Linked DNA regions of Homo sapiens: region 2 is linked to region 1. The links come from fine-mapping of genetic effects on gene expression. Tissue or cell type: whole blood. Region 1 holds a variant in brackets; the other region holds the start of a gene. All regions are shown on one strand. Distances are from middle to middle. Region 1 overlaps FBXO21 (F-box protein 21). Region 2 holds the start of FBXO21 (F-box protein 21).

What was found.
Region 2: it holds the start of FBXO21, and the variant in region 1 is fine-mapped to the expression of FBXO21 in whole blood (TOPMed, PIP above 0.99).

The regions. Positions count from the first base shown.
Region 1 is chr12:117,152,794-117,158,172 of GRCh38, reverse strand. FBXO21 (F-box protein 21) reads left to right here. Exons shown (of 12, transcript NM_015002.3): 10 at 110-300; 11 at 2,225-2,382. Among named protein-coding and RNA genes, the nearest start is that of FBXO21, 35 kb to the left of the region's middle. RefSeq lists a silencer at 2,713-2,892. The variant G/A (reference allele first, on the strand shown) is at 2,093.
Region 2 is chr12:117,187,254-117,192,632 of GRCh38, reverse strand. It overlaps FBXO21 (F-box protein 21), which reads left to right and starts at 2,163. Exons shown (of 12, transcript NM_015002.3): 1 at 2,163-2,415; 2 at 3,271-3,406. The coding sequence starts at 2,177. RefSeq lists silencers at 1,947-2,006, 2,047-2,146, 2,427-2,476 and an enhancer at 2,947-3,036.

The DNA of each region.
Region 1 (5,379 bases):
TGGTCCTTTGCTTTGTTAGGTTACGTAGGTAGGTCTAAATCCCTCGCCGCAAAAAAGAAAAGGCCTAGCTGAAAATATTATCTTTTAGTCTTTCTGTCTTGTTTTGAAGGTGCTTGACATCCTCCAGCACATCCAAACCCTAGACCCGGGGCAGCACGGGGCGGTGGGCTACCTGGTGCAGCACACTCTAGAGCACATTGAGCGCAAAAAGGAGGAGGTGGGCGTAGAGGTGAAGCTGCGCTCCGATGAGAAGCACAGAGATGTCTGCTACTCCATCGGGCTCATTATGAAGCATAAGAGGTGAGTGCCCGGGATCATCTGTCCTGCAGTGTCCGTTCCAGAGGGGCTGCAGAGACACACATGCACCTGGTGAGCCCCCAGGACACAGTGGAGGAGGAGCTGACTGGATCACTTATCCCCCGAGTGCGCACCGCGGGGAAGACAGAAAGCTGAACCTCTTTTTTTTTCTTTTTGAACCGTGTCTTTGACCTTTGTGTTTTTTAAGCAGCAGCTTACTTTCCTGAGAGATCTTCTAGTGTTTTTAGTGGCCTTTAGATGTTTGACCCTTCTCTGTGTGTGAGAACATGGAAGTAACTTTGTAAGACACGAGTTTTTTCTCTCATTTCCTCATTGTTCTTATATCTTGTCACTTAATCTCAGTCTCTTCAAATCCGATAGGCACTTGGTCTATTTACCAGGCAAAATTAAACTGTATCCAAAGTGATTGGAGCAGTTTACATCCCACCAGCAGGCTGGGAGCCTGGAGTTCCTATTCTCGCCTGGTGCTATTGCCAGACCTTTAAAAGTGTACTTACCTGAGAAAGGGCAAATAGTGTTTCACTGTGGTTTTAATTTCTGTTTCCTGGGTTACTAAACACGTTAAGGTTCTTTTCATATATTTACTGGCTATCCAAGTTCCAAATTTCCTTTTATTAAGCGCCTATTCAAACATTTCATTTTTCTTTTCTTTTTTTCTTTTTTTTTTTTTCTTTGGAGACAGTCTGGGTCTGTTGCCCAGGCTGGAGTGCAGTGTTGTATCTCAGCTCACCTGCAACCTCTGCCTCCCAGTTCAAGCGACTCTCATGCCTCAGCCTCCCAGGTAGCTGGGACTACAGGCGCACACCACCACGCCTGGCTAATTTTTTGTGTTTTAGTAAAGACAGGGTTTCACCATGTTGGCCAGGCACGTCACTAACTCCTGACCTCAAGTGATCTGCCGTCTCAGGCTCCCAAAGTACTAGGATTACAGGCGTGAGCCACCACACCCAGCCCATTTCGTGTATTTTTTTCTATTGAGTTATTAGTCCTCCCTAATATGATATGTAGTTGTTCTTCTGTGTATCAGTATCTACATGACGATAAGTTGCAAATATCTTTTCCCAGTTTTTGGCTGGTGGTTTTCATTCTTTATTGCATTTTTTTAAACTTTTAAATGGAAATTTGCAAAGATTTATAAGAGAGAAAGGACTATAAGGAACCAGGTGGTGTTCCTGTCATCCAGCCTCAACAGCTGCCATACGGGGTGAATCTTACTGTCCCCTGCACCCTCCAGACCTTCCTCCCTGGGTTAATTGACGCAAGTGCCAGATGCCATTTCACCTGTAGCGATTTCAGTATGTACCTCTAAAAGGCAGGGGTGCTCTCTCCTTCTCTGTCTTTTCATATTTAACATCTTATTATCACATCTAGAAAACCCCAGTTCCTTAACTTCATGCAGTATCTAATGAGAGTTCCTATTTCCCCAGTTGTCTCATATTTTTACATGTTTGGATCAGGATTTGTTAGTCTCTTGGTTTTAGTGATGTCAGATTGGTTAGTCTTTTCCTTTACGGCTGTATTTTTAGTGCCTTGTTTTAACAAACCTTCCCTATCTTGAGTCATGAAGATACTTTCTATTTTAGAAGTTCTGCATTTAACACCTGAGTCTTTGCTGTACTGAGAATTGAATTTGGTGTGCTGTTGTCAGGCCAGGTCCCCATACCTTTTTCTTTTGGGTAACCAGTTGTCATCTAATCACTTTTTGTTGAAAAGTTTATTCTTTTCCAGATAAAGTGCTATGTTGATAATAAGAGGTGTTTATAAAAGGGGTTAG[G/A]GGTGTCCTGAAAAATGATTCACCGTGGAGTAAAGCAGGTAACTGAGGATGTGAGCTGAGAAGCCACGCGGTTGTCTGGAGGTTGTTGCGGCCGGGTCTGCAGGGACTGACTGCTCCTCCTGTGTTAACTAGGTATGGCTATAACTGTGTGATCTACGGCTGGGACCCCACCTGCATGATGGGACACGAGTGGATCCGGAACATGAACGTCCACAGCCTGCCGCACGGCCACCACCAGCCTTTCTATAACGTGCTGGTGGAGGACGGCTCCTGTCGATACGCAGCCCAAGGTAAGCGGCGGGTTCCGCTTGTGCCAGTGGCCCCGCGGGCGTGTTTTCAGCGCACGTTTGAGCCCTCGGGTAGGTACTGTGGGCGTGGGCCATCGGTTCCTTCAGAGGCGGCCGACGCCCCATGGCCGGCCTCCTTCGGGCCCACAGTCAGCTAAACGTGGCTGGGTCTGCACAGGTGCCGCCCTGGCGAGGGGTCAGTAGTCATACCCGCCCTCCCCCAGGGCCTCCGCTCCCACAGCCCGGACATCTGATTGGCCACTGTCTATGCCAATCAAATTCCTGTAAGTCCTGCCTCCTGGACCCTGCCCTCGGCTCCTCCCAGACTAGAAGGGAACCGGATGAACACCTGGGGGCCCCCTAGTGCTCCCTGGCCTCCCAAGGCTGTGGCTGCCGGCTGACGCCGGAGATGCCCTCGTGTGGCCACCTGTGGGAACTGCAGCCCACTGCGCCGGCCCTGGGAGCACCTGAGAGCCCGCAAGTGTACAGTAAGGTTGGGTAGGCGTCTGGGCCACTGCCGCCCCGGCAGGTGCCAGCCCAGGGCAAGGCTGAGGTGGAGACTGACAGAGCCTGTGGAAGCTGGTAAGAGACAAGAATGCCTTCAGTGTGAGTCTCCCTTCTCTTTGTTCCTGTTGAATTTCACCTCTACTTAATAGGATGAATTCAGTGTATGTCTGTCAAAGCATTCACATTGATTAATTAATAATTCACATTTATTAATAAAAATGAATGTGAATGCTAATGTAGTGCCATTCTGTGACGGACATCATTCTAATGTATATTAACTCCATTTGAGAAACATCATCATCATCATTTTCTAGGTGAGGAAACTGAGGCACAGGGAAGCCATTGAGATTTTAACTTAGAGAACACGATTTGAAGCCAGGCAGCTTGACAGAGCCTCCTCTTCATCCATCATGCTGTACCTGCTCATGTCTGAGTTTTGACCTAACTCAATATTATGTTCTGATAAATCCAATAATCAAAATATGGGATGTATAAAAACCTCAGAACTTTCTGAAAGGCTGGAGATTGCCAGGTGAGGTGTCTCACACCTATAATCCCAGCACTTCGAGAGGGTGAGGCAGGAGGATTGCTTGAGCTCAGGAGTTGGAGACCAGCCTGGGCAACACAGCAAGACCTCATCTCTGCAATTTAAAAATTAACCAGGCAGAGTCATGTGCACCTGTGTTCCCAGCTACAACACAGCAAGACCCCATCTCTACAAAAAAATTTAAAAATTAGCCAGGCAGAGTAGTGTACACCTGTGGTCCCAGCTATTCAGGAAGCTGGGTTGGGAGGATCACTTGAGCCTGGGAAGTGAAGGCTACAGTGTGCTCTGATTGTGTTGCTGCACTCCAGTCTGGGTGACAGAGTGAGACCTCATCTTAAAATAAAAGGCTGGAAAATAATGATTATTGTCAGTTAATCAGAAACTGAAAGGATCCCCTGGAACAGCAGCATCAAGATAAATGTTTGTTGAAACTGCAGGTCGCTTGCCCTGTCTCAGTGTGATGGGGATGGTGTAAGGGGTTTCTGTGCTCCCTGTGGCAGATGGAGGCACCAACGGTAATGTTATTTAACTTTTGAAGCTGTGTCGAATATAAACAATCTCTAAAAATCAACACATGATTTGGACATTATTGACTGATTCACTGGGCCACTGGTGCCAGCACAAGTCACCTGGTAAACGCTTGATAGCCTACAACAAATGGCGTTCACAAGAATAAATGAGCATTTTCTTTTCAACAACACCGTGGGCCAGTGTCTATGGCTTTACCACATGGCATCATTATTCACTGTTTAGGGTTGGTCTTAAGTATTTGGTTTTAGGGGTTGTGATATGTTCACTTCAGAAGTTGATCTCTAATCATATCTAGGTAAACATGCAATGTAAGGTTTAGTCATAAAATTGTCATTACTGAAAAAATTAATATCTGCTTGTTGGTTTTACCATCTGTTAAATTGAGATGGAACTAAATGATGGGTAATGTTAGCAAATTGGCTTCTTGAATTTAAAACGTAGAACTTCAAAGCTGTTCCTACACTATGAGAGTTCCCGTCTTCTGCCGGCGGCTCCATCAGCGCTGTGTCAGCAAGCGCTTCCTGAGGGACTCGGAGTCCTGGGCCAAGGGGCAGATCTCCCCCAGCATGCCTGATACGTGGCTGTCTTCAGGGTCCTCCCTCTCCAGGGGACTCTCCTCTAGGCCTTCATCTCCTTCCCCCTTGGGGTGTCTGTGGATGTGCTGGTGACTCCCAAAGCCGTGTTCTCTGGGCTCTTCTCTGGGCTCCGTGCCCACCTCTGTAACAGCCCCCGGGCATGTGTGCTTGGAGGGCTCTCAGGGGTCTTCTCTCCAACATTGTTACCCCGACTCACTGAACCCATTGTTTTAACTCGATTATCTCTGTAAAGAAAGAAAAAACATGAACTCATTGTGCCCCCATACCCCCCTTGCTCCTGCCTGCCCCATCTCACTAGTGACACCACGTGGGGGCCGTGTCTTGCTCTTCTCCCCTTGCCCTCGCGATACATCTGTCTACACACCCACTGCTGTCTCCTCATGTGTCTCCCATTTCCATTCTGGTGGTCTCTGCTTGCCTACTTCCTAACTGGCACCTGCCTCCCGGCCTGTCCCCAACCGGGCATTTTCCTTAGCAACAGCAAGAGGATCTTCCTAGCGTGTCCCTGGACCGGGCCACTTGCTGCTTGAATTGACTGACCATCAGGAGTTTCTCATCGGCAGGCAGTGCAGAATGCTTTACCAGGCCCTAGGGATCTGGCCTTCCCCTTACAGCCCCAGCACGGTTCCCACGCCTGACATACTCCAGCCCACTTCCGTTCATCTTCTTTGAAGTCATCATTCTTGCTCGCACGTGGAACAGTTAAAAGAATACATCAAATACCCCCATTTACCCTCTAGTCAATTCAACAGTAAATGATTCCCATATTTGCTTTATCTATAGAGATTTTACTGTTTTCCTGCACCATTTGAAAGAATA
Region 2 (5,379 bases), 34 kb before region 1:
ACCGCATCCGGCTCAAGGATTTTTTCTATACCAGCCACTGTTCTATGCCCCTCACATGAATTTCCTCATTTAATTCTCATGACAGCCCCAGGAGACAGGCATTATTATTATTAATTATTATTCCCATTTTACAGATAAAAAACTGGGCCTCAGAAAGGCTAAGTAACTTCCCTAGTCAAACAGCTGGTTAGACTATCGCAATCAATAGATAATTGAGAATCTGCTCTGTGCAGGGCATGGGTCAAGTAACTAGGCTTCTAGAGGTGACTCAGACACAGTCCTAGCACTGAACTCCCTTCAGATTTAGTGGGAAAGATGCATGTTGAATAGTTGTAAGTTAAGTAATTACAAGACTGCAAAATGCTGGGCAGGAGCCATATCTGGTGCTGGTGCTGGGGCGGGGGAAGGGAGAGCATTTGGAAAGGTTAAGCTGAGCCCTGGAGGAAGAGGAGGAGCTACTGGAAGGGGAGGACTGCATGAAGTGCCTTGCAGGCAGCAGGAATAGTATATGTAGGGCCAGAAATGGGAGGAAAGAGATGACCAGCCTTGCTGGGGTATGCATGGCTAGTGAGAGAGAAAGACTTCAGATAGGTAAGAAGAGGTGGAGTTTGTTGCTTTGCAACAATGTTTGGGATGTCACATTCATTTCTACGGGAAATAGGGAGCCACAGATGGCTCAACGCCATCCATTGAGAGTCACTTTACTAGTTCAGCTCTCTCAGGGCATCTTGATTTCCAAGTTGCCAGGAGTACTTCATTGGACCCTCCATGTACTGACAACAGATCCTTCTAACTGTAATTGCACTTTGAGGTTTTGAAGCAAAGACTCCATTTTTCTCACCCCTGTATCCCCAGGGCACACAACACAGGGCTTTGGCACTGAACTAAACTGATTTTTTTTTTTTAATGTGCAGATCCTGAGACTACCCTCCCAATCCTGAGTGATAACTCCCGCTTTGAAGACTCAAATCCAGGCTTTAGCACTTTTGTCTCTGTAACTTTGAACCAGTGACTGCCACCTGGAAGAACTTTGCCTTTTCTGTAGAATAGGTATAACTGTGGTACCTATTGTGGGAGGTCAGACTATGCTCCCCAAATATGAAGGATTGTTGAGCTGGAAACAATTAAGAAACCAGTACAGGAGAGCTCTCTGCCTGCCCTCTATTAGCCTAAAATCAGGGCACACATTTGAGGATTATTATTACTCCCCTACACCATCATAGAGGGCTTCCCATAGCACCCACTCAAGAATATTGTTATTATTACATCATATGGTTAAGATTACTGACAAGCAAAAGTCAAGTGGATCTGAAATAGAATCCAAGACAAGGGGCTGGGCGCGGTGGCTCACGCCTGTAATCCCAGCACTTTGGGAGGCCGAGGTGGGTGGATCATTTGAGGTCAGGAGTTCGAGACCAGCCTGACCAACATGGTGAAACCCTGTCTCTACTAAAAATACAAAAATTAGCTGGCTGTGGTGGCGGGCGCCTGTAATCCCAGCTACTCGGGAGGCTGACGCAGGATAATTGCTTGAACCAGGGAGGTGGAAGTTGCAGTGAGCCGAGATCACGGCCACTGCACTCCAACCTGGGTGGTGGCGCGCGCCTGTAATCCCATCCGCACGGGAGGCTGAGGCAGGAGAATCGCTTGAACCCAGGAGGCAGAGGTTGCAGTGAGCCGAGATAGCGCCACTGCCCTCCAGCCTGGGTGAGAGCAAGACTCCTTCCCAAAGGGGGAAAAAAAATCCAAGACAAGGGATCCTGAGCAAGCCCTCTCACTCTCCGAACCTGTTTCCCCATCTGTAATATGGGGAGAAAGTTCGCAGGGTAATTCGGAAAGGTCCAATGCGCACAGAAAGCGCTCAGCACGCGTGAGAATAGATACCATTTTTATTTGTTAATTTTAAACATTAATTACGTTTAAAAGAATCAGTGCTACTATTGTTGTCCCGGACTAGAGGCGGCTTGCGCTGCCGGCTCCAAGCACAGAGCCCAATTATGTCCTCCCTTTTGCGGCGCTGCCACCCGCGCAGCCCCCAGCCGATGCAGGGGAGGTGTGGCCCGCGGATGGGCGGAGCGATCTCAGGACTCGCCCCCAAGACCAGTAGGCGGGGCCAGGCGGGGCGCCCGGGCACTCTCGCACGCGCGCGCGCGGCGGCCCCAGGTACGCGGACAAGATGGCGGCGGCAGCAGTCGACAGCGCGATGGAGGTGGTGCCGGCGCTGGCGGAGGAGGCCGCGCCGGAGGTAGCGGGCCTCAGCTGCCTCGTCAACCTGCCGGGTGAGGTGCTGGAGTACATCCTGTGCTGCGGCTCGCTGACGGCCGCCGACATCGGCCGTGTCTCCAGCACCTGCCGGCGGCTGCGCGAGCTGTGCCAGAGCAGCGGGAAGGTGTGGAAGGAGCAGTTCCGGGTGAGGTGAGCCAGCGGCCCCGCGCCCCGGCTGCGCGCCCACCGCCCCGCGCCCCCCGGGGCCGGGCAGCCGCCCCGCTAGCTCCCCGCGGCCGCCCCGCGCGCGGACCCCACCCCGGACCCCTTCCCGCGGACAGACAGACAAAGGCCTCCAGGCCCCGGACCCTGCGGGGCCACGCCAGGCGGACCCCCGGGTCCCCAAATGGCGCATCTAGGAGCGCCTCGCAGCCGGGTCCTCCGTCAAGGGTGACGCTGGCGGCGGCGCGGCTCGTCCCTTTTGCGCGCTTCTTTTGTGCCCGACTTCGGGCTGAAATGTTTACATGGACCCAGTGATGCATCGATCGGGCGGGCGCAGCATCCCCGGGCTGGTTGTGGACGGCACAGATTTCAGCGTGGCCCCAGGATGAAATCTGGCCCTGCACACTCCCTCTGTGACCTTGGGGGGAGCGACTTCCCTTTTTTTGAGCCTCGTTCATAGACTTTGAGTGGTGGTGATCATTAGACCTACCTTTCACCGTGTTTATTAAATTAGATGATGTCCGGGAGGCACGCACGCAGGGCCCCGGCTCCTAGGAGGCGCTCAATCAGTGCTCACTGTCATTGTCATTATTATTATTGTTGTTGTTGTTACAACTGTCCCCATTTTAGAGATGGGGAATGGAGACATCATTCATGCCGCTACGCCAAGGTCACACCGGGAGTGAGTGAGTGAATGCTGGTGGGGTTTTGAACTAGGTCTCTCGCCGGGGTCCCTCTTACCACTGGACGCCACTGCTGTCCCTGTTTCCAAGGCTGCCTTGGATTCGTGGCCGCCTGCCTTTGAGTTTCTGTTAAGCTGAGGGGGTGTTTCTCTCCTCGTAGGTGGCCTTCCCTTATGAAACACTACAGCCCCACCGACTACGTCAATTGGTTGGAAGAGTATAAAGTTCGGCAAAAAGCTGGGTTAGAAGCGCGGAAGATTGTAGCCTCGTTCTCAAAGAGGTTCTTTTCAGAGCACGTAAGGATCTGTTGATGTGGCTCTAAGCTTTGGCTTGCTGGTGTATGTGTCTGGGTCTGCAGGCATGAGCTCATCCAGCTCTTTTCGTATCTCCCTTTTCAATGCTCTCACAATCCCTTACTCACTTAGATGGCTGCAAGAGTCATTGTGTCCTTTTCCTCCTATCCAACAACACGAAGCCATTTGTCTGTGCCAGCTTTACTTTTCTAAAGCCAGAGAGAGAGTGGGGGTGGAGGGAGCAGGGAGGGACCCACGCAGCACAATGTAGACGGAGTCCAGATCAGCATTATTTCTCAAATGGGTTCAACGGATTTTTTTTGCAACCCCTCCGTTATTTGGGGAATCATCAATGATTGAACACTGTAAATTTCTCCCGGTTGTTTTCCCAGAAGGGTTGACGAAATTAATGTGGTTCTTCTCTCTGGCTTTGCAGGTTCTACCCAGTAGTGAACTGCATTATTTGTTAAGGTAACAGAGGATTAAAAGCTACCTATAAATCAGAGTTATTACTCCCTGAAATGAATTGTCTTGCATTCATTATCCCTGAAAAGTTTTTGGGTTTTTTTTTTTTTTTAAGTATTGCAGAAATACATGGTGGGTTTTTTTTGTTTTGTTTTGTTTTGTTTTCTTTTTTTCTTTCCTCAAAATGTCTCATGGAAGTTTCTTTCTTTTTTCTTTTTTTGAGACAGAGTCTTGCTTTGTCTCCCCGGCTGGAGTGCAGTGGCGCAATCTCAGCTCACTGCAACCTCCTACTCCTGGGCTCGAGCAATTCTCATGTCTCAGCCTCCCGAGTAGCCGGGACTACAGGCATGCGCCACCATACCTGGATAATTTTTGTATTTTTAGTAGAGTTGGGGTTTCACCATGTTGGTCAGGCTGGTCTTGAACACCTGGTCTCAAGTGATCCGCCGGCCTCTGCAAACCAAAGTGTTGGGATTACAGGCGTGAGCCACCGTGCCTGGCCTCACGGAAGTTTCTGTATCTGCCCCTGATCCCTTTTTGTAACTCTGGAAAATAATCCACACTAATGTTTTGAGTTCAACAAACTATTCGATATTTATTTCTGGTTGGGGTTCTAGAAATAGAGCCAATCTGATTTATTTCACTTTTTTGTTTTCCTAAAGACTCCTTTGGATTCTCTAATTTTAATTACTGTTAGTTAATGGAGTTAATAATTTGAAATGTTTTCAAGGCTTTTCAAGTTTTGAAAGGGAAAATTTGAACTTTGGACAAATTTGAATGTTTTCCCCTATGGAGAATACAAATAGACATTCCTTAGTGTAATTGGTTTCTATAAATATTTATTAGTGTTAGAATAAACAAAATTTGTATTTTACTTTGGAGAAGCCATGCCCTGGCTAAAAGCATTCATAATCACAAATTGTAAATGCTGATCTGAATGTGTTTGCACATACGTAGATTTTGGTACTAGCTATGTTTGGTGCAGTTGGTCATGGACTATGAGCCTGCAACCTCCATTTCTAGTCCAGCTGGTTTTGTGTATGTTTTGAACAGTCTGTGCCTCTGTGTAATAATGATGGATTGTTGTGTTTTTTCCTCAGCTCCCCCTTTTCCTGTACCACTGCTTAATTAGAAGTATGTCAAGGACTTTGAACACAGCGGGAGCATACTTAACATTAATCTGTGGGTGGGTGATTGCTTTGGCCCGGGATCTTGGCGTTCCTGTGTTCTCAGAATGCACACAGGTTGACCTGAAATGTTCTGGCTACTTGCAAAAAGAAAACTGAGAGAAGCCATAGAATTTTAAACTCAGAAGATCTTTTTTTTTTTTTTTTTTTTTTTTTTGAGACAGAGTTTCACTCTTGTTGCCCAGGCTGGAGTGCAATGGTGTGATCTCAGCTTACCGCAACCTCTGCCTCCCAGGTTCAAGTGATTCTCCTGCCTCAGCCTCCCGAGTAGCTGGGATTACTGGCATGCGCCACTACGCCTGGCTAATTTTGTATTTTTAGTAG